2 linked regions of the Homo sapiens genome follow. The protein of the gene in region 1 interacts with the protein of each later gene in a biochemical or structural test. Each region holds a gene or a part of one and is shown on either strand. Other genes may lie near its edges. The genes, in order: RGS14 and GNA11.

Evidence for each region.
Region 2: the proteins of RGS14 (region 1) and GNA11 form a complex in vitro, tested with the Homo sapiens proteins (one study listed by BioGRID).

What each region holds. Positions count from the first base shown.
Region 1 is NC_000005.10:177,357,752-177,370,714, forward strand, and holds the start of RGS14 (regulator of G-protein signaling 14), read left to right. Parts: upstream 1-172; 5' UTR 173-273; coding exon 274-318; intron 319-5,301; exon of another isoform or gene 5,302-5,373; intron 5,374-8,211; coding exon 8,212-8,233; intron 8,234-8,425; coding exon 8,426-8,604; intron 8,605-8,956; coding exon 8,957-9,049; intron 9,050-9,139; coding exon 9,140-9,283; intron 9,284-9,662; coding exon 9,663-9,806; coding exon of another isoform or gene 9,807-9,962; coding exon 9,963-10,074; intron 10,075-10,405; coding exon 10,406-10,515; intron 10,516-10,965; coding exon 10,966-11,169; intron 11,170-12,836; coding exon of another isoform or gene 12,837-12,839; coding exon 12,840-12,913; intron 12,914-12,963.
Region 2 is NC_000019.10:3,114,685-3,124,499, forward strand, and holds the end of GNA11 (guanine nucleotide-binding protein subunit alpha-11), read left to right. Parts: intron 1-259; coding exon 260-388; intron 389-4,239; coding exon 4,240-4,369; intron 4,370-4,521; coding exon 4,522-4,675; intron 4,676-6,304; coding exon 6,305-6,495; 3' UTR 6,496-9,315; downstream 9,316-9,815. UniProt on the Homo sapiens protein: Guanine nucleotide-binding proteins (G proteins) function as transducers downstream of G protein-coupled receptors (GPCRs) in numerous signaling cascades.

The sequences.
Region 1 (12,963 bases):
TGTGCGTGAACGTGTGTGTGTGTGCGCGTGTGTGTGTAGGAAGAGGCGTTCGCTCTCTTAGACCTTGCTTCTTTCTGTGGTTTGGTTTCTATAGAGACACTTCCTGTGGCAGAGAAAAGAGGTAGTGAGCGGTGTTTCAGGATGTGAGGGCCCGCAGGAGCCGAGTCAGGCTCTCTCCACTGCCTGCCCGCCACCGTGCAAGCTCTGGCCGGCGCTGCCCACAGTCCCCATGGTGGGCAGCCCCCGCGGCGGGGACCCCTGATCGGCAGCGGCATGCCAGGGAAGCCCAAGCACCTGGGCGTCCCCAACGGGCGCATGGTGAGTGTGGGCTCCGGGCCAGGGCCACGAGGAGGGGGTGGGCACACCCAGGGTGGAGCCCAGGAGGCACACCCGGCAGGGCCAGGCAAGAGCCCACGGGCTGCCAGCAGGCGAGAGAAGTTGGGTACAGACAGCAGCAGGTGGTAGGACCTGGTGCTCTCACCCCTAGACCCTTCCAGATGGCCCAGCCGGGAGCCTGGTACAACCCTGGCAGTGAGGCCAGAGCGGGCACAGGCTTCTGGTCCAGCCCCCACCACTCCCTCACCTGCTGCATCTGGGGCTGCATCCCAGGGTCTCAGGGACACTCGATGTGCTCCTTGCCCCCTGCCCATCCCCACAGTGGCTCAAGCCCCTACATCCCGCTCAGCCTGAGTCCTCCCCTCCTCACCCCCTGCTCCAGGTGCCCAAGGTCATGTTAGTGGCAGCTCTTGCTGGGTCGGTGTCCTCCAGCCGGAGCTACTCCAGAGGCTTCCTGCCAGAACTAGCATTGTTTGGGCAGCCCGGGATGGGGCAGCAGGGTCAGACTAGGTTGATGCAGCTTCTGCCTGTTCTATTCCTGAGCTTCCAGGAAGGGCTGAGCACTAAGATCCCCCTGGCTGCAGCTGCCCCACCCCTTAACCCTCTCCCTGGCTGCTTAGCCCCAGATCAGAGCTGCCCTCAGAGGATCTGGCTCTTCTCATTCATTCAGCAGATGGGGCAAGCTGTGCTGGGCCTCCCTTCTCTCCCTAGGGTTCCCCCCTCACTTGGAAGAGTCCCTCTTAACAACCTCAGGAAGGCCAGTGTCCTGGCCCACCACCAGGCCCCAGCCTAGTATCACGGGCCAAAGCCAGTGGCTCTATAGAGACCTGGGTTCCAGTCCTGGTTCTATTCTCTCTTACTGGAGGGAGGGTCCTCGCCAGCTCTCAGTTTCCTCATCCCTAAAATGAGGAGGTTGGAATGAATTTCAAGGCTTGTTGAGATGATAGAGTGAAATAATGCATATGAGGCCTTTGACCCATTGTGGGGGCTGCATAATTGTCAGCCCAGTGCCCCCTACATTTTCAGCCCCAATTCAAAGATCTCCTGCCTCACCAAGAAGCTGAGGCAGCCCCATCACCACTCCTGCCCCTTAGTTCCCAAAACCTGCCTCTACCTCTTCTTCTTCCAGCATCTCTTTCCTGCCCAGCCCCGGGCTGGCCGGCTGGGAGAGAGGCCACCCTTCAAAGCCAGCTCAGCCCCCCATCTCACTGTCTGCAGTACCGACCCCACAACGAAAGTGCAAAAAGAAAACCCACCTCCCTTGCATTCCCATGTCACAGGCATGACACTTCGCTCGTCCTTGCCTAGGCGACCGGGCCAGGAAGCCAAGGAGGCTAACCCCAGGCCCACCCTGGGAGGGCAACTGGATTGATGCTTCTGGGACAGTGCCTAGAACTACAGGGCAGCAGAGGGGGCCCAGAGACAGACCCAGCCCCTGCCCCTTCTGTGTCAGCCTGTGACTTCTCTACTCAAAAGTCACCTAGAGCAGGGAGGGTGCCCCAAGGTCTGCCCCCAGTTCCATCAAGCCCACAGACGCCCCGGCTCCTCTCAGAACTGTCACACACAGGTTTATCTTTGCCCTTCCTGGGCCTGTTCCAAACTCTCTGTGCCACCTCTTAGAATCCCGAGGGTCACAGATTGGCTGCCTGCTGGTCACTGAGTAGCTTCCCGTGGCCCTGCACAGCTAGGGCAGGGAGGGCCAGACAGGCACTGGGATCTGAGGTGCGGATGTGGATGGAGGGGCGCCTGGGGGACAGGTATGTCTGGTCCCTCCATGAGTTACCTCCCAAGGGAGGCTCAGAGAAGTAAATGCTGTGCCGAGGTCAGCCAGAGAGTAGAGCGTCAGCATCTGAACCCCCAGAACTGCCTGGCCCCAGTCCTCCCCTACCTCTCCTCTCACCACCATCATTCCCTGCTGTGGAAGCTTCAGTTGTCAGCCTTGCCTCTCTGCCATTCAGCTTGTCAGGCAGTTGCAAGGAAACCTGTCACTTGGAGACATCTCCCAGCCCCCTTCCTAGGGATGTCTTCACACAGCCTCTTTACCTTTTCATTTGTTCATGTACTTATTCACTCATTCATTCAACAACCCCTCCTTAGTGCCTGCTTGGTGCTGCCACTGCCCCTATCCTAGACACTCCCGACCCAGGCCCATCAGCCCTAGTCCCTGCCCCCTAGTCTGGCAAGGCACAAAAGACACAGGTGAAAATACCAGGCAGTGGCTCAAGCCTGGAATCCCAGCACTTTGGAAGGCCAATGCAGGAGGATCGCTTGAGCCCAGGAGTTTGAGACCAGCCTGGGCAACATAGTGAGGACCCATCTTCTTTTTAATTAGCTGGGCATGGTGGTATGCACCTGTAGTCCCAGCTACTGGGAAACTGAGGTGGGAGGATCGTTTGACCCCAGGAGGTAAAGGCTGCAGTGAGCTGTGATCACACTCAGACTGCACTGCAGTCTGGGTGAAAGAGCAAGATCCTATATTAAAAAAAAAAAAAAAAAAAAAAAAGATGGAAGGAAGGGAGGGAGGGAGGGAAGGAGGGAGAGAGGAGGCAGGCACAGTTGCTCACGCCTCTAATCCCAGCACTTTAGGAGGCCGAGGCGGGCAGATCATGAGGCCAAGAGATCGAGACCATCCTGGCCAATATGGTGAAACCCCTTCTCTACTAAAGATACAAAAAATTAGCTGGGCGTGGTGGTATGTGCCTGTAGTCCCAGCTACTTGGGAGGCTAAGGCAGGAGAATTGCTTGAACCTGGGAGGCAGAGGTTGCAGTGAGCCGAGTTCGTGCTACTGCACTCCAGCCTGGCGACAGAGCAAGACTCTCCACTAGCTCCATGCACCGTGTTGTAGGAGACGGTCCCTAAAGGGTCTGCAAGCTGGAGGAGGGAGGGCACGGCATAGGCCTGGCTGTGGGCAAACACAGGGACAGGGCCCTAGGGGAGGCTGAGAGTTAAGCCTGGAGGGGCAGTTAGCCTGTCCTGTCCTGTCAGAGGGCCTAGTTAGTCTTCCCCTCCTGGCAGGAAGACCTGCAAGGCAAAGCCCATGCAGCTCTCTCTTTGTCCCTCGCGTCCAGCTCAGGGCACTCGAGTTCAGGGTGGCCTTATACAGGGGCAAGGCCAGGGGTCATCTCCACAGGCTGGTTCAAGTTGAAGGGACCAGACACCCAGATTCTGTGTGGACATCTCCAGACAGGGTCTTGCAGCCCCTCAAGCTAGGATGAAATCCTCAAGAGGATGGTAGAGGGTGCCCAGCATAGAAGATGCTCAGAAAATTGGCCCTCCTTCAAGGTCTGATCCCTCTAGAGGGCACAGTTCAAGAGGAGCCCCTGAGCAGGTCATGCCAGATTAGACTTGCCCACCTGTGCCCCAAGGGCTGAGGCCCTGGGCCTCCAAGCTTCCTTGGTCCACAAAGGGAGTCAGCTTGGGTAGAGGGTGGGGAGGCCTCAGGCTCCAGAATCAGGCAAACTTGAGTTCTAATCTCAGTTCTGCCACATCTCAGCTGCATGGCTTCTTTGGGCCTCAGTTTCCTCATCTGTAAAATGGGGGTAATAATACCTGCCACACAAGATACCCGTAAAGATGGAGGGAGGACATGAATGTGTGCTGCCAGAGGGTGCCTGCCACACAGTCAAAGCTCAGGAAATTGGGGCCTTACTCTCACCTTAGCATTTTCAGGTGCCAGCAGCTCCCCCAGGACCAAATTCCTAAGAAAAAAATATGACCGGCCGAGGTCCAAGCCTGGGTCCGTGTGTCACTGGCCACCACACCCTTCCTTGCCCTTTCTTCCCCTTTTTCTCCATTCACTCACCACTTCTTCTCAAGCAGGCTGAAGCAGGGGAGGCCAGCCCTGCTCAACACAACTTCCCCAGGCCCTGCAGTGGCAGCCAGGGCAGGCCAGAGCCCCTGCAGGGCCCCTGCACACCTGCACCTCACTCCGCTGTGGGGTGCTGCTCTGATTGTGGCATGCCTGGTGCTTTCACTCATGGGGCCTCATTCAAGCTTCACAGCAGCCTCAGGAAATTGGGAGTGCTGAGCCCCATGCTACCCAGGGAAAACTGAAGCTCAGAGAAGTTACTTGTTCCCGAATAGCAGAGCTGGAATTGGATTCCACCCCCACTCCCACCCATCTCCAGATTTCTGTCCCTACTCAATTTCAGCTCCAGCTATGCTATCAACAACTGTCAGGGCAAGAGAGGCTCAGGATGGAGAGCTACAGGTGGCATTCAGGGGCTGAGAGTCCCTAGTGAAGGGGTGCCAAGGCCAGGGTCCTGATGGCTGCTTGGGAGCACGAGGCAAAGACGGTGCTTCTTGAGGAGGGAGTTCAGATCTGACCCCTCCCACCAACCAGGCCAGCACTCCAGGGGTGACCAGACTGGCAGGGAGAGAGGCCGGGACATGGGTGGATAAGCACGTGGTGGGAAGGGGCATTCAAGGGGCCTGGTGTTTGGGGACGACTAATGTCAACGGGCAGAGATCGGGGAGCAATTCCAAGCGAAGAGCAGGAGCAGATACCCAGGCACTGGCAATGGCAAAGCCGGAAGCAGGGGTGTGGGGAAAATAGAAAAGTTCGGTGAAGTGTAGGGTGGAGGTGAGGGGGAGGAAAATGGGTGAGGCTGAAGGGGGTTCATTAGTCAGGCCCAGGTAGGGTTTTAGCCGTAACCTGGCAACCGCAACGTGCCTCCGGGGGCAGGGAAAGGGCCCGGGTTGGCACCGTGGGGAGGGGTGGGGCCTGGGGAGGATCTAGCAGGCAGCCCCACTTAACGACATTCAGTTAAGCAGAACGTGGAAAATAAACCTGTGAGGGCCAAACAAAATTGAAGTGCTGGCTGGCGCCAGCTCCAGCGCCTATCACCCCTGACTCGGGGTTAGAGGGCAGGACAGAGGCTCAGGGTGTGCGCGAGGAGGGCAGGGCCAAGCAGCCCAGCGGAGGGGGGCGAGTCCGGGTGATTCTCGGGGATCTGGGGGAGGGCGATGACTGCGTCTCCGAGGCTGGGAACACCGTGGCGGTGCAGCCGGGGGAGGAGGAGCCCGGGCGCGGGCAGGTAGGTGCAGGCTGCAGAGGAACCTTGCGGCCGCGCAGGGAAAGGCTTCGTCCCGTCCCTCCTCGCAGCCCTCTGCCGCCCTCGGAGTGGGGACTTTCTCCTGTCGCCGTGGGAAGCACCGACTTTCGTTGGGGGATTTGACTCTGCGGGGAGGACAGAGCGGGGAGCACGAGAGCAGGGCCAGGAGGGGCGGGGCCGGAGACGGGGGCGGGGCGCGCTGGGCCCGACGCCCCGCCCAGCGCGCTCTGCACTAACTCGCTGCCCTCCACTGCAACTTCTTATTCCCGGGCTCCAGATGGGAAGCGAAGCTCAGGGAGGAGCCCGAAGTTGTAAAACTGGAAAAAGTCAGGGCTGGGGTTTGAATCTGGATCTGAGAGACGCCCCCCGCCCCCAACACCTGTGCTCTTTCCTTCTATGGCGGGAGTGGCAAACTCGAATGTGTAGCGGGGTCAGGCATCAACACTGACACAAGAACGACATTAATAGTAACGTTCCTTGAACATTTACTACACGCCCGATAGTGTTCTGAGTTCTTTATATATATTTCACTCATTTAATCGCACCAATCCTTCGAAGTCAGGACCATTATTTGCTCCATTTTTAGAGAGGAAAAAACTGAGGCACAGAGAGGTTAAGTACCTCGTCCAAAGTCACACAGCACAAATTTGACCTCCCAAATTTGAGCCTGCCTCCCACTGCCTCCACAAGTAACATAAATGCATTAAACTGGCCCCAGAGGCCTCTGAGAGGAGTGTAAGCCCTTTTGGGGAAGGTGGTGGCTGCTCAATCCCGGACAAGGTTGTCCTGCTGGGAAGGAGCTGGAGCATTACAGTCTCACGGAGCAAGTGGAATTTAAAATCTCTTGCTTTTTAAATGTGGAAAATACCTTTAAATAAAAATAATAATCATCATAATAAAACCTGAGAGGGCCAAGGTAATAGTAATTTCCCACATATCTGCAGACCGGATCTGGCCCACAGATGGCCGCCCTGTGACCTGAATACTCTCAGGGTGGGAGTAGGAAACAGAGAGGAAGGTTCCATTCAGGAGGGTGGGGGTTGGGGGGCTTTCCGGGGTGGAGATGTTTGCAGGCCTGTTTCCAGTTGGGATGGGAATAAGGGGCTGGTGGTAGGAACTTCTGTGACAGGGCATGGTGAAAGTGTAGGAGGTAAGCGGGAAGTAGGAACTGGGGATGACTCAAGCCCTGATGTTGGAAGCCCGGGTGATGGGAAGAAAGATGGGGGCAGGGAAGCTGGTTTGGTACTGTGTTTTGGTGGAGGCAGAGGGAGCTTCCATTTGGGACTTCCATTTGGGAGCTTGAGGGCTTGTGGGACATTTGAGGGGGGACTCGCCCCCCTCCGCTGGGCTGCCTGGCCCTGCCCTCCTCGCGCACACCCTGAGCCTCTGTCCTGCCCTCTAACCCCAAGTCAGGGGTGATAGGCGCTGGAGCCGTTACCAGGAAGTTGGTTATGTGTGTCTGGAGCTGTGGATCTGTGGATGGGACAAAGTGCCCAGGACAGAGCCAGAGAGGGGTTGAGGCCACATTGCATGAGTGGGAGATAGTGGGGAAGCTGGAGGAGCTGCTAGGAAGGTAAAAAGAGAAACAAGAGAAACCACCGCAAGAGTCATTTTGAGAGGAGAGTTTTTCTGTTTCACTAATGATTGGGATTCCCAGAGAAACCAGAGTTGTGCACTGGGGGCAAGGATGGAGTTAGTTACTGCAGCAGTACTACTCACAGAGTAGTCCCTGAACCAGCAGCATCAGCATCGCCTGGGAGCTTGGTAGAAATGGACAGCCTCAGGCCCCATCTTGGACCTACTGAACCTGAATCTCCAGAGGTGGGGTCCTCCCACTCTGCACTGAAGTTTGAGAACCACTGCTCTGTACTATAGACCAGCATCTTGTGCCCTCCCACGGTGGTAATGGGACCCTGGGCCCAATAGGCAACACGTGCGATAGTAAGATCACTGGCTGCAGAGACACCTCTCCTTCCTCAAAGACAGCACATGTTTATACAGCCCATATCACATGCTGGCCCATGTTCTAGATGCTGTGGATATATTTTTATTTGATTTTCTTTTATTGAGACGGAGCTTTGCTCTTGTCACCCGGGCTGGAGGGCAATGCCACAATCTCAGCTCACTGCAACCTCTGCCTCCTGGGTTCAAGCGATTCTCCTGCCTCAGCCTCCCGAGTAGCTGGGATTACAGGCATCCACAACCACATCCAGCTAATTTTTTTTTTTTTTTGTATTTTTAGTAGAGACTGGGTTTCACCATGTTGGCCAGGCTGGTCTCGAACTCCTGACCTCAGGTGATCCACCCATCTCGGCCTCCCAAAGTGCTGGGATTACAGGCGTGAGCCACCGTGTCCAGCCAATGCTGTGAATATATTAAACTGACTTGATCTTTACATCAAGATGGAAGCAAATGGTTTGCCTCCATTTGTAAATAGGCATTATCTCCTATTTACAGATTACAGATGGAGGCAAACAAGTTAACTAACTTGCCCAAAGTTACACAGCTAGTAAGTGGCAGAGACTAAAGTCTGTTCCTACCCACCATGCTATGCACACCTGGCTCACCCAGCAGGGGCTGGGGGAGGAGGGAACCAGGGGCTGCTGGAAGGTACCTGCCATAAGTCCCAGTACTTAGTGGTTGGCACAGGATGGAAGGGGAGCCAGGGGCAGACTGAGGAAAACCCTGACCAAGTAGAACCTGGCCGGGGATGCCCAGGTGGAGGAGAACGCAGTTCCAGCTCCTGGGAGTCGGGCCCAGAACTGTCCCCTGGGAATCCTCACTGGGCTCTTCTGACTTTCTCTGTTGGGTCTCTTATAGGTTCTGGCTGTGTCAGATGGAGGTAAGTGACAGAATGTGTGGAGAACTGGCTGAGTGGGAGGGAGGAGGGAGGTGGAGATGGGTGGGGACACCCCTGCCACCTGCTATCTTTCCAGGGAACATGGCTGCAGAGTGGATGCATGGGGGAGGGTGGGTTGTGCCAGGGGCTGGGGAAGGCAGCAAGGCTCACCCCAACTTGTCCATCCCCCTGCAGAGCTGAGCAGCACGACGGGGCCCCAGGGCCAGGGCGAGGGCCGCGGCAGCTCTCTCAGCATCCACAGCCTCCCCAGTGGTCCCAGCAGCCCCTTCCCAACCGAGGAGCAGCCTGTGGCCAGCTGGGCCCTGTCCTTCGAGCGGCTGTTGCAGGACCCGCTGGGCCTGGCTTACTTCACTGTAAGCCTGGGGTAGGGAAAGGGAAGGGGGGACACGGGAGAGGGCAGGGCGTGGATGGAGCTTCAGGCTGGCCAGAGTGGGGTCCTCTGTCAGCTTCCTCATCTAGCCTTCCTGCAGCACCCTCTTCCTCTTCTCCCAGCTGGGAACTTTTCTTCCTTCTCCCTGTCCTTGTCTCTGCCTCTCATTTTCTCTCCCTGTCTTCAGATCGGTCTGGCTCCGTCTGTCTGTCTGGCCCTGTCTGTCTGGCTTGGTCTCTTGGCCCTGTCTCTGTCCCAATCTTTTTGATCACATCCCCCAGTTTGGTCTCTGTGTCTCTGAGTCTCTGCCTGCCTCCCCCTCCTTCCCCTCCCAGGAGTTCCTGAAGAAGGAGTTCAGCGCGGAAAACGTGACTTTCTGGAAGGCCTGCGAGCGCTTCCAGCAGATCCCGGCCAGCGATACCCAGCAGGTGGGGGAAGGGGGAGCTGGGGCCGAGGGCTGGGGAGAGGGGAACTGGGCCACGCTCCCTGACCAACTCCTCCTGTCCCTCCTCCTTCAGCTAGCTCAGGAGGCCCGCAACATCTACCAGGAGTTCCTGTCCAGCCAGGCGCTGAGCCCAGTGAACATCGACCGTCAGGCCTGGCTTGGCGAGGAGGTGCTGGCCGAGCCCCGGCCGGACATGTTTCGGGCACAGCAGCTTCAGGTGGGCGATCCTGGGGGGATTGGCCTTGAAAGGGAGACAAAAGGAGCAGGGGCGGGGTCGGACCCTGGCGGGGAGTCTGAACTACAAAGCGGAGGGGGCAAATTTGGAGGCGGAGACAGAGCCAAATGCCGGGGCAGGCAGGGCGGAGCTCAGAGGGCGGTATCAGAGGCACGGGGAAGGACAGTTAGAGGCGGAGCCTAGCTGAGCTCGGGGCGGGCTTGGACCCCGGGGGTGGGTATAGGAACTGAGGTCGGGGCGGGGCTTGGGAAATCCAGCCCTAGGTTTGGGGCGGGGCCAGCCCCAAGGACCCGGCCTGGGTGCAGGCAGCCCAGCGCCCCCACCCCAGCCCCGGCTCACCTGTTCCGGGGTCGCCCCGCAGATCTTCAACTTGATGAAGTTCGACAGCTATGCGCGCTTCGTCAAGTCCCCGCTGTACCGCGAGTGCCTGCTAGCCGAAGCCGAGGGACGCCCTCTGCGGGAACCTGGCTCCTCGCGCCTCGGCAGCCCTGACGCCACGAGGAAGGTGCGTGGGACTGGGCGAGGGACTGGGCGAGGCAGGGGGTCCTGCGGACCGCGTGCAAGAGGGGACGCCTCCGGGTGCAGATCTGCGAGTCTGTGCCCACGGTCTGCATGCGGGCTGGGGCCCAGCCCGGTGCCAGCGCCTCCCCTGTACCCACAGAAGCCGAAGCTGAAGCCCGGGAAGTCGCTGCCGCTGGGTGTGGAGGAGTTGGGGCAGCTGCCACCCGTTGAGGGTCCTGGGGGCCGCCCTCTCCGCAAGTCCTTCCGCCGGGGTGAGGGCAGGAGCGAGCAACAGAGATGTGGGGAAGGCGGGAGTTTGGTTAAATTTGGGGAGTGCCCCCTTCCTCCTACGTGGCCCACAGTCTGTAAGTCTGTGAAAATTGAAACCCAGGTCCCAGTGACCACCACACTCCCCTGGGTGGTTCGGGTCTTGGGCTAGACCTCAGACGTTTGGAAATCTCCAACGGTGGTGTCGCTCCCAGGGATTTACACCTGGGCCCCTGCAGGATGGCTCCAAACAAGGCCCACCAGTGGGGAACAGGCTTCCGCAGAGGATGGGTGAGGGCGGGGGGCTGTTCGCGTTCATCGCTCCCTCTTCACTAGAGCTGGGCGGGACTGCAAACGCCGCCTTGCGCCGAGAGTCTCAGGGCTCCCTCAACTCCTCCGCCAGCCTGGACCTTGGCTTCCTAGCCTTCGTCAGCAGCAAATCTGAGGTGAGCCGACTGTTGGGGAAGACAAGATGCTCTATGGGCTAGAGTCACTACTCAGGCCCATTTACGTGGTGGCCCTCATTCCAAGTTGCTGTCCTTACTGCGTCTCCCAGCTTGCTCTGCGTAGCCAACCCTTCAGCCTCCTTACTTGTCTCACTACATTGGTCCCCATATATGTCATGGGTACACATCCTCAGTTGGCAAATGTGTGCACATGTGCAGCACCCAGGTGTGTATACACAGCACGTGTGTGGGAATCAGCGGGTGGACCCGTCTCTAGGTGCCCATATGCCTGGGTGTGCATACATGTGTTCCTGCAGGAGGACGTATCTTTGCCTGCCTTGGGAGTGCGTGTGCATGCTTGAGCCCCAGCAAGCTTACCTATCTCTGTGTACCTGTGTGCATGCCCTTGCATGTGTACACATAATCTCCCCCACTCCTGCCATGAATCAGAGCCACCGGAAGAGCCTTGGGAGCACGGAGGGTGAAAGTGAAAGCCGGCCAGGGAAGTACTGCTGTGTGTACCTGCCCGATGGCACAGCCTCCTTGGCCCTGGCCAGACCTGGCCTCACCATCCGAGACATGCTGGCAGGGATCTGTGAGAAACGAGGCCTCTCTCTACCTGACATCAAGGTCTACCTGGTGGGCAATGAACAGGTGGGAACGTGACCTGGCTCCAACTCTAACCTCCTTCCTGATCCTGACCCCAACTCCATTTCTGTCTCTGCTCAGTCATGGCTCCAACCCCAATTCAAGTTCTAAACCCAACTCCAAAGCACCCTCAGCACCAACTTTCACTCACTCAGACATCCACCCACCCCCCACCTCATGTCCTTCCAGGTTTCCACCTTCATCCATCATCCTATTGTGGTGACCTTAGGGAGGTAAAACTGGAGAGAACCACTGTTGGAGCTGGGGTTTGCCCCTCATCATTCCCAGAGTCCAGACTCCCATCCCCACAGACCCATCCTGGAAATGGCCATCCGTGGGGTGCCCTCACCTCCTTAGCCTCTAGGGGCACCCAAGTGCACCTAACCAATGAACTTTTTCCTTTAGGTGCAAACTAGCTTAAACTTTAAAGAAGACCTAGGGGAAAACTGGCTTTAAAGGAAACCATTCAGTCAGGGGAATCTCAAGGAAGAATGCTACCTTCCAGGGGGCCATCGGGATTTCATTTACCTAGTAGACAAGTCCTAAGGCCTTGCCAGGTGTGTGGGGGAGAGGAACCTAGATCTGGGGCTGTCCTCCTGGCCCACAGGCTGAAAGTAAGCCAAGCAGGGAGTGATCAGGGAGGAGGAAGAGTGAAAACTCCAGAGAAGGTCTCTTGGGAGAGGGTAGGCATTTCTGGCTGGTGTCCGGAAGGCTTCATGGAAGAAGCAGCAGTAGATGTGGATGGGCAGAGCTGTGGGGGAGGATATTCCAGGCAGAGGGAACAGCTTAGGCAAAGGCCTGCAGGTGGGTACTTGCGGGGCATGTTCAGGGGCCTGGAGTGCAGGGGTGCGAGGGCAGTAGTGGGAGGCATTTTGCCCACTCTTCTCAGGCCGCTAGGGCGGCTGCCAGCAGCCCAGATGGGCTTTCATACATGCTAAATATAACTTCCTCACCCACACTCCACCTGCTCCTGCAGCACAGCATAAGCCTACTGCCTGGGAGATGCTGCCCCCAACCCCCACATCAGGCTGGAGCAGGCAGTGGGGCCTCTGAAGGTGGTCATCACGAGAGTTACTGTTTATGTACCTACTGTGTGCCAGGCATTGTGCCAGATGCTTCACATCCTCTGGTTTCACAGCAGTTTTGAGGGTGGGCCCTTTTTGAATGAGGAAACAAGAAGTGTCCTTAGTAGCGGGGAATGGAGAGAAGTGGACAAATGTCAAAAATGGGACCAGGCCAGGGTGGTTGGTCAAAGGTGGGTGGTGAGGGAGGAAATGCTTCCAGCTGGTCTGGTCGGATTTCACACACCTGAGGGACACGAGACAGCTGTCCTGGAGGCAGAGCCTGTCCTGGCACAGAAAGAGTAGGCCAGAGATCCCGGATCTAGGCCTGCCCCTTATCATTTCATGCCAGCAGCTACGTTTCTCGTAATTTCTGTCCTTTCCCAAGAATGTCCAGCATTCTTGCCACTTTTCTCCCTGGCCTTGGCTTTCCTGGGCTTGGACTCCAGCTTGGTACCTTAACCCATTTGCTCCCCTACAGCTCTTCCACCCTCCATCCCTTCCTCTAGGAAGCCCAGTGGTGGCCATGGGAGGGCGTGAAGTTGTTCTCAGACCCACAGGGATGGCTGGGGGTTGGGGGAGGGACTCTTAGACCCTGCCTGGCATCCACAGAAGGCCCTGGTCCTGGATCAGGACTGCACCGTGCTGGCGGATCAGGAAGTGCGGCTGGAAAACAGGATCACCTTCGAGTGAGTGTCCTGCCCCCAAGTCTGGGTCCCAGGTCCTGACGCTCCCTTCA
Region 2 (9,815 bases), on another chromosome or scaffold:
CTGGGACTTTCTCTTGTGCTGGGTCATTTCTGTCCCCTGAGACCCCAGAGAGGATAGAGGTTGGGAGGCTCGTATCCCGACCCCAGGGTCTCCATTGGCCCGAGCCCTCCGGGCTGCTTCAGACACTGCCGTAGGTGGCGCAGTGCGCGGTCCACCCCCTCCTGGTGGCTTTCCGTCCTCCCGCTGGTTTGGGTGCTGTGTCCCTGTCCTGCCCCCCCACCCCCGGCAGCCGGCCTGAGCACCCACCGCTGTGTTGCAGCTACCTGACCGACGTTGACCGCATCGCCACCTTGGGCTACCTGCCCACCCAGCAGGACGTGCTGCGGGTCCGCGTGCCCACCACCGGCATCATCGAGTACCCTTTCGACCTGGAGAACATCATCTTCCGGTACCGCCCGGGCCACAGCAGGCGGGGAGGGGGCACTGAGAGGCTCATTTGCCCGGTGTGCCGGCTCATGCCTGCGCACCCAGTGCTTTGGGAGGCCAAGGCGGGAGGATCGCCTGAGTCCAGGAGTTTGAGACCACCCTGGGCAACATAGCCAGACCTCATATCTAAAAAAAATTTTAAAAATTAGCTGGGCGTGGTTGTGTGCACCTGTGGTCCCAGCTACTCAGGAGGCTGAGGCAGGAGGATCGCTCAAGCCCAGGAGGTTGAGGCTGAAGTGAGCCATGATGGCACCACTGGACTCCAGCCTGGGCGACAGAGGGAGACCCTGTTTCGTCTTATTAAACAAAAGAAAGCCCATTGGTCTTCATCCTCAGTGTGTGTTTGACCAGGTCAGGGGATAAGATTTATCTCTAAGTATGTGTGAGCCAGGGCCACACAGGGAAGGAGCTGTGGGGGTGTGGGGGGCGTGGCCACATCCATCCAGACCGGCAGCCGAAGAGACCTGGCAGGGAGGACATTTGACAGGGCCTCCAGGACGGGCCGGGGGCCTGGTTGGAGCCAGCATGGGGCTGGGGTCTGGAGTGCTGGCCGGAGCAGGGGGTGCCGCATGGTGCGGGAGGGGTCATAGGGACTGAGGCTGCCAGGGGAGGGGGCTCATGGGGACCGAGGCTGTGAGGGGAGGAGGGGTCATAGGGACCGAGGCTGTGAGGGGAGGGGGGGGGTCACGGGGACCGAGGCTGTGAGTGGAGGAGGGGTCATAGGGACTGAGTGGGGAGGAGGGGTCATAGGGACTGAGGCTGTGAGGGGAGGAGGGGTCATAGGGGCCGAGGCTGTCAGGGAAGAGGGGTCATGGGGACCGAGGCTGTGAGGGGAGGAGGGGTCGTGGGGACCGAGGCTTTGAGGGGAGGAGGGGTCATAGGGACTGAGTGGGGAGGAGGGCTCCAGGCTGGGGTGGAGGAGCTGGGTGGTGTGGGGTGGATTCTGTTCTTCACGGGCTGCCCCTGCGGATCCTGCTGGGCCTCCGGGGCTCCAGGTCCACTGTGGCTGGGGGCCGGCCAGCAGAGCCGGGTTCTCCCTGGGGACCCTCAGTGGGTCCTGTGTCTGGTAGGCTGCTCAGCTGGCTGGACTCTGCTGTCCCTGGGAACGTGGACCCTGCCTGCCTGTCTCCTGGCCCCATATAACATCTCCAGCGCTGAGGTCCCGGCTTTATGCGTGCCTGTCCTGGGCTGCTGGTGTCGGGCGTGAGACTCCCACCGCAGGCCTTATTCCCGCCCAGTGCTGGAGGCCAGAAGGCTGAGATGCAGGTGTGGGCCGGGCCAGGTCCTTCTGAGGCTGAGGGGATCTGCCCAGGCCTCACTCGGCTCCTAGTGGCGGCCGCATCCTTGGCATCCTTGGCATCCTTGGCATCCTTGGCTTGTGGCCGGGTTGCCTCATCCCTGCCCCCATCCTCATGCAGCGTCCTCCCCGCCTGCGCCTTTGCCTCTGTTCTCTTATAACCTGTCCTTGGCCAGGGCCACCCTACCTCTGTGTGACGTTATCCTAACCAGTGACATCCGCACAGACCCTGTTTCCAGATCAGAGCCGTCCCCGGGTTCTGGTGTTCGTGCGTGTGGGGCGCTAGACGGCTCTGTCCTGGAGGGCCTCGCGGTGGCTCCGGTTGCGGGTGCCTTCTCCTGCAGTGCAAGCTCGCCCTGGCACTGGCCCTCATGAGGGAATGACGCCTCCCTGCCAGGGTGTCCCCACCCAGCTGGTGCACTGCCGAGGCCATTGTGAGGGTTCCGGGAAGTCTGTGGGGTTTTCCTCGAGAGCCCTGCCTTGAGACCCACCCCAGGGCTGGGGGTGCCACCCCCTGCCATCTGCCTGTTCTCCCCACCCGTCCTCCCAGCTCGGCCTCCCAGCGCAGGCAGGGAGGATGCGGCGTGAAGATGGAGGCAGGGATGGAGCAATGTGGCCACAAGCCAAGGAATGCCAAGCTCTGGGATGGTTCCCGGGGACCCGAGCAGGCGCTGGGCCCTCAGAAGCTGCGGTGTCCTCTCTGGACATGGGCGATGGTGTATATTGTTACGAGAATTCAAGTTTTTCTTCTTTTTTATTCACACGGGGCCCATGACCCCAGGATACAGCTGAGGCGAGCCAGGCATAGGCCAGGTTGTGGCATGAATGTCCCCTCACAGCCCCACGCTGGCCTCTTAACAGCGCAGGCCTCTGTGTCCTCTGTCAGAAATGTCCTGTCCCCTCCCTGAGCTGAGCTCAGGCTGGGTGTGTCACCCCCTCTCCACCATCTTCCAGGCCCTTCCCAGCTCCAGCTGTGCCCTTTTCTTTTTTTTGAGACGGAGTCTTGCTCTGTCGCCCAGGCTGGAGTGCAGCTGTGCAATCTGGGCTCACTGCAAGCTCCGCCTCCCGGGTTCACGCCATTCTCCTGCCTCAGCCTCCCGAGTAGCTGGGACTATAGACGCCCGCCACCACGCCTGGCTAATTTTTTGTACTTTTTAGTAGAGATGTGGTTTCACCATGTTAGCCAGGATGGTCTCGACCTCCTGACCTCGTGATCCGCCTGCCTCGGCCTCCCAAAGTGCTGGGATTACAGGCGTGAGCCACCGCGCCCGGCCCGGCTGTGCCCTCTGTGCCGGGTGCAGACCCCCGTCCTGAGCCTACTCCTCTGCCACCATTGTTTCTCTGCCAGCCGCCTCTGTCCACCACACGCTGGCAGAGGGCCGGCCAGGTGCTGTGGGATGCAGCTGGAGGCCTTGAAGGCCGGTGGGATCGTCCCAGTGCGTGAGGAGAGGCTCCTGCTCCCTCAGGTGGGGACAAGACACGGGGGGACCCGGATCCCAGCCCTGCCGGCCGCCGCAGGCGTGCAGGAGAGGCCTCGCGCTCCAGACGGGCTGTGGCCTGGTGTCGGCACACCCACTGTCCTCCCGCCTGGCCACAGCTGCTGGTGCGGGCCCTCTTGTCCCTTAGAGTCACCTGGCACATCTGTCATCCACCGGTGCCTGCTGGACTCCCCCGCAGACCAGACCAGGTGGATTTCACCACTCACATGCCCAAAGCAGCCCCGCTCTCCTCGGCAGAGTTGCAGGGACCCCGGCCTTCCCTGGGGCCTGGGGCCAGGGCCTGAGGGGCACTCTCCGCTTCTGCCTTTGTATTCTTTCAAGGAGACCAAAGTGCCTTTTCTCGTTATAGAAAACTTAGAAAAGTCACAAGTAGAAAGAGGCAAACGTCCCGTAAGGAACGCACGCCCGCAGACATCGTCTGAGCTGATTTTCTTTCTCCCGCCTGTGCGTGGCCTGAGAGTGTGAGGTTGAGCTGCTCACCACGCGGGGCAGGGCGCTGCGCCTGCTCTTCTGCCCCAGGAGGATACCGGCAACTCTGCCCTCTGCAGCCGTCACTGGAGGGTCCCTGCAGGGAGCAACTGTGGCATCAGTGTTTACTCCTGCGAGTGACGCTTGGTGAACATCTGTGTCCCTGGCCCAGTGAGGGGAAAGGCTTCTGTGCTCAGGGTGACATCCAGATGCCAGATGTAGGGTCCCTGGGCACCCATCGCAGGTTCCCGCAGCAGCTGGCGCCCAGAATCCTCTGGGTTCTCACACCCCCACACTAGCGCCCGCTTCCCTGGGCCCAGTGGTCTCAGGCCCCTTTGCCAGTGAGGGAAGGGTCTGCGGTGGTCACCCCTGGAGGCGGTGCGGCCGCTCTCTGAGAGCGTCCTTGCCCGTTCTAAGAGTGGGGGCTCTTCCTGCTCCAGCCGATGTCAGTCTGGTGTGGCAGGAGGGGCTTGGGTGGGAGCCGTCCTGGGATTGCAGATTGGGCCTTGGGGCGCCAGGTGGCTGAGTCCTGGCGCTGTGTCCTTTCAGGATGGTGGATGTGGGGGGCCAGCGGTCGGAGCGGAGGAAGTGGATCCACTGCTTTGAGAACGTGACATCCATCATGTTTCTCGTCGCCCTCAGCGAATACGACCAAGTCCTGGTGGAGTCGGACAACGAGGTGGGCCCTGCCCTGAGCAGGGGCAGCGTTGGGGGCCGGGCCTTCCCCACCTGCCAAGCCTGGGTCCCCTCACCTGGGTCCCCCCAGCTGCCCCTTGGGCTGTGTGCAGTGGGGAGGGCCCCTCTGATTCCCTCTGCCTTCGCTCCCGCCAGAACCGGATGGAGGAGAGCAAAGCCCTGTTCCGGACCATCATCACCTACCCCTGGTTCCAGAACTCCTCCGTCATCCTCTTCCTCAACAAGAAGGACCTGCTGGAGGACAAGATCCTGTACTCGCACCTGGTGGACTACTTCCCCGAGTTCGATGGTGCGCCGGGCTGCGGCATGGGGAGGGGCTCGCGGGCAGGGCCTTACTGGGGGGAGGGGGCTGATATGGGAGAGGGGCTCATACAGGCCGGGAGCTCTAAGGGAGGGCGTCTGATGGGAGGTGTCATGTATGGGAGTGGAGTCTCAGGGAAGGGAGATCTCGTATGAGGGGGGCCTGTACGGGAATGAGTTCTCCGACGCGGGTGTCTCATACCCGTGGGAGATCTGTTAATGCAGGGACTCCTTATACAGGAGGGGTCTCGGGTGGGAGGGGTCTCGGGCAGGGGGATCTCGGGTGGGAGGAGTCTTGTACAAGGAGGGCACCATGGGAGGGGGAGTCTTGTATTGGTGGGTCTTGTACGGGAGGGAGTTGTCGTATGGGGGTGTCCTGTATAGGTGATCCCATATGGGAGGGGTCTCACAGGAAGGGTTCACGCACACTGCCAGCGCAGCCCCGTGGGGACCTTGGTGGTAGTCCCTGCATCCTCCTCTGTGCCCTACTGCCCCCACCCTCGGACCCGTCCCTCCCTACGTGGCCCCTGCCCCACGGGGTGTGTCAGGGCAGCTGAGCACTGAGGGTCTTCACATGCCCAGCCCTCTCTGGGCCTGGGGATGGCGGCCAGGGGAGGGTGTTGTGTGCCCTCGTCTGTGTGGTCAGTGGCTGCCGTTAGTGCTGTCACCACTCAGAGCTGTCCCTGCCAGGCACAGTGAGGCCCTGGGCAGCTCTGGCGCCCTCATTTCCACCCCGGATCTGTGCTCCTCCCGTGAGTCTCGGGTGTCATCTTCGGGAGGGCCCCTCAGGGTGCCCTGCCTCTGGATGTGCAGCGAGAGGGAGGGGTCTGGCACACGGTATAGCCTCGGCCGCTGGCTGCAGGCGCAGGGCCCTGCTGTCCCTGGGCAGGGGAGTGGCGGGGGGCGCTGCACCTGCTCCAGCCGCACGTGGCCCCTGCCCAGCAGCCTGTCCTGTGGGCTCAGAGAGCCCTGGTGGGGGGAGGCCAAGGGACTGGGGCATAGACCCCTGTCCCACCAGTCCCCAGAGCAGCCCCTTGAACACCCCCAGGGGCCTTTCCACCGGGGCAGGCAGGAGTTACTGGGCGGGTCGCCTGCATTGTCCAGGGTGGTGGAGGGGCAGGGGTGGCCGGTGGGAAGCAGCGCCCCTGCTGGAGCCCCTGGATGTCTCTGAGGCCTGGCTGCAGCAGGGGCACCGTGGGTGGGTGGGGGCCACTGTTCCTGCTCTGTAGGCTCTGTGCCCAGCCCTGGGGGCCTCTCCTCTCACCCTGGGCCTTCGCAGGGCAGCCATGCCAGAGGCCTGCCCTGGAAGGCTGTGGCTGTGGAGCTGAGTGGATAGAGGCCGGCAGAGGGCTGAGCAGAGGGAGCAGCGGTGGGTGCAGAGCCCCAGGTTGGAGGCCTGGGCCGTGACAGTAGTGCCCTGGGGCTACAGTGGGATTGGCACCGCAGCTCACCTGGGGAGGGAGGGGAGCTGCGGCCCGTCAGGCATGCAGTGGGCTGGGGGTCGAGCTGGGTGGGCCGTGGGCCTTACTCGCTCATCCCCTGGGAGTGACAAAGGGGCCCACGAGTCCCTTGCCCTGGGCCGGGCTGGGGCACAGCCTCACCCTCTGCCCTCCCCCAGGTCCCCAGCGGGACGCCCAGGCGGCGCGGGAGTTCATCCTGAAGATGTTCGTGGACCTGAACCCCGACAGCGACAAGATCATCTACTCACACTTCACGTGTGCCACCGACACGGAGAACATCCGCTTCGTGTTCGCGGCCGTGAAGGACACCATCCTGCAGCTCAACCTCAAGGAGTACAACCTGGTCTGAGCGCCCAGGCCCAGGGAGACGGGATGGAGACACGGGGCAGGACCTTCCTTCCACGGAGCCTGCGGCTGCCGGGCGGGTGGCGCTGCCGAGTCCGGGCCGGGGCCTCTGCCCGCGGGAGGAGATTTTTTTTTTTCATATTTTTAACAAATGGTTTTTATTTCACAGTTATCAGGGGATGTACATCTCTCCCTCCGTACACTTCGCGCACCTTCTCACCTTTTGTCAACGGCAAAGGCAGCCTTTTTCTGGCCTTGACTTATGGCTCGCTTTTTTCTAAAAAAAAAAAAAAAAGAAAGAAAGAAAAAAAGCAACGAAACATAAAACACACAAGCGCCCCGTGCCCCCAGTGACTCTGGGCCTCACAGAGCCCCCGCCAGCCAGCATGGGGCCCCGCCCTGCAGCCAGTCACGCGCCCCCACACCGCAGCCCCCCGTGGCTGTCCTTCCAACCCCACGTGCTTTTTCTTTCTCCTGCCCGCTTCTTTTCTTCATCACAAAAGGCGTGGAGACTCGGAGACGGACGTTTTTCCCCTTTTTTAAGTTATTGACGCCCAGCGCGCCTCGCCTCTTCACCCATCAACGCTGTGCTTTGCCCACTGGACTCCTGAAGAGGGGGTGGGGGGCTCCCTCGGTCGCCCACCCTGGGAAGTGCCTAACCTTTTATTTTATTTTATTTTTTTGAGGAAAAAGAACGCCTGACTCACAGGTTGAAGAAACACCCTGGGCCCTCTCTCATGGCCGGGTTCCCCGTCCCTCTGCAGAGGCTGGGAAGGGTCCCCGGGCTGGAGCCACGGGGGCTTCTCTGGGCTGTGCCTCCGGGGCCAACACTGGCTGCTTGGGGCTGCCCGGGGACTCCAGAGGGCTGCACGGCCACCCTGCCCTGGCTAGAGCGCACCCCACCGGAGCCCACGTGGGCTGGGCGGCTGGAGGGATGGTCCCCCGGTGACACTGGGAGAAAGGCCACTTGGATGGGGGCGTTTCTGTTTTGTTCCGCTTTGTGATGTCACCAATTTGGAAACAGCGAGGGTGGGTGGGGACTTTTACAGAATATTCTCAGGTGTGTACCCGAGAGGCAGAGAGAGGGACGTGGCCGGCAGCTCTGTGCGTGGCCTTGTCCCAAGCACTTGCGCCCGCCCCCGAGCGCCGCCCCCGGGGAGCGGGAAGCCAGCACTCGCACTTTGGCCAGGGGCGCGTGGAAGGTGGTGGCAGGCACCGGCCTGGGCAGCTTCCAGGCCTGGCTGGCCACGACCACGGCCCGAGGGGGAGCCCGCCAGGCCACGCCGCACTGAGCCACAGCCCCGGGGGCCGCCTCCCGGGGCCCCTTGAGGCACTGAGGCACCGAGACTGGTTCTCCCCGAGAGACTCGGAAGGTGGGGAACGAGGGGACTGTGTTTGGGGAGGTGGCTTTTTCGTCTGCTGTTGACTGAACACTACAGCGCCCTGTGGTTCCGGGCTTCGCACAGCTGTCCCAGGGATGGATCGCCTGTGCTGCCTTCGCCCGCCGCCACACCGGGACCCTGCACGGCTGCTTCTGGCCTCGACAGATGACAAAAGAAACAGCCCCAAAATACGACCACTCCAACCAGCAGTTCCCGCCTGCCTGCCCGCCACTGTCAGGCCTGCCCTGGCCTCCTCGTCCGCAGGGCTGTCTGCTGGCTTCTGGGGGCAGAAGAGCGGGGAGCCCCGTGGAAGGGTCAGGGGAGACCAGGTCAGGGCAGCTACATTTCTGGTGATCAGCCCCATGGGGAGACGGGGCTGGCGGGATACCCCCCCCCCGGCTTCCCCACACCACTTCTGTCTCACCCGGAAGCGTCCTTTTTTTGTGCCAGGTGTCTACCTAAGAGGGTTGGTGCCAGAAGCCCCCCATGGCGAGTGCTGGGGCCCGGCGGTGCCCTGGGGGAGCAGATGGGGCCACCCCTGGCAGGGCCGCTACAACCTTTTCCAGCAGCGGAGCCCTCTGGGGGGCCTGTGCTTGTGGCATCTCTGAGGGCCTAGATTGCACAAGGTGACCTGGCCGTGGCCTGAGGGTGGAGTCGCCCAGCACGCAGGCCGGGGCGCTGCGGGGCTAAGTATTAGGCCTTCCCAGGGAGGGGGCGTGCCAAGCATCCCAGAGCCGGGCTGGGACCGCCAAAACGTCGTGGCCTGGATCCTCTGGGTCTGAGTGCCTGATCCCCTGCCCCCCAAAAAAGCAGAGGTAGGTGTTGCAGGCCCAGGGCAGGGGTGCCTGCCCCAGGAGAGTCCCAGGCAGTGGTTCTCGTGCCAGTGGCACCCAGGGGCAAGGACAGCCAACCCCCACCCTTGCCACGTGTGGGGCCACGTGGGCATGTGGGGTGTGTGTTTTTACCTTGGTGAATCTCACCTGCCAACGATTTCTCGTGAGTGCCGACCACCTTCTCCGACCATGTTACGCCCGGGCGGCAGCAGCCCCCGGCCACTGCAAACCCATGCCCTGGGTCCCCCGGCTCCCCCAGGGAGGCATCCCCGTGCCAATGTCCCCCAGTGGTGGCAGCAGATCCTGTGGCCGGCCTGGCGGACGGGACCCAGTGATACTTGTATATTACACAGTCCTGATTTCAGACAATTTCAACCTTAATCTATTTAAAAAAGAATATTCTATACAAGCTGTTTTTAAGCCTTTTACCATTTGAAATGCATGTGTTGTGCGCGTTGGGGATGGGAGGAGGGGCTGAGGAGCGGCTCAGTGTCACCTCCCACAGCCACCGGCCCTGACCCTTAATCCAGACACCGATGGAAGTCGACTTTTCATATCTTTCTCCTGAAATGAACTCTGTTTTAAATTGGAATAAATTTTGTTCCTAAATGCTGGCGGCCCCCTTCTGGTTTATTTCCTGTTGTCCTTCAAAGGGGGCTGGGGGGAAGTGTGCAGAGGCCTGGCCCCCAGGAGCCCTGGAGTTACCTAGGGCATTGCCTGACCTCAGTGGGGCCGCCTGGGTGCCTCCGCACGGTGTCCCGGGGCCCCTCCCCTGTCATCTTGTTTGACCCTTCACTTCAAGTTCATTTCACTAGCACCAGGCCAGAGCAACCTGCTTGGGAAATGCCACCTTGTTTGGGGGCTGGGGACAAGGGAGTGAGACGGGGAGGAGCCCAGGTCCCAGGCCAGCCTGCCCCTCACCTTCCAGGGCACCTGTGGGGACATCATGCCCTCCGGGCCTCCGTTTCTGTAAGCTGCGGATGTGGGACCTCTGCAGCCTTCCTTCAGTTATTTTTTCCTTTTGAAAAAAAATTGTAAAATACAGATAAATTTCTAAGTGCACAGCTCAGCGGCATTAAGTGTATCCACACGGTTGTGCAGCCATCACC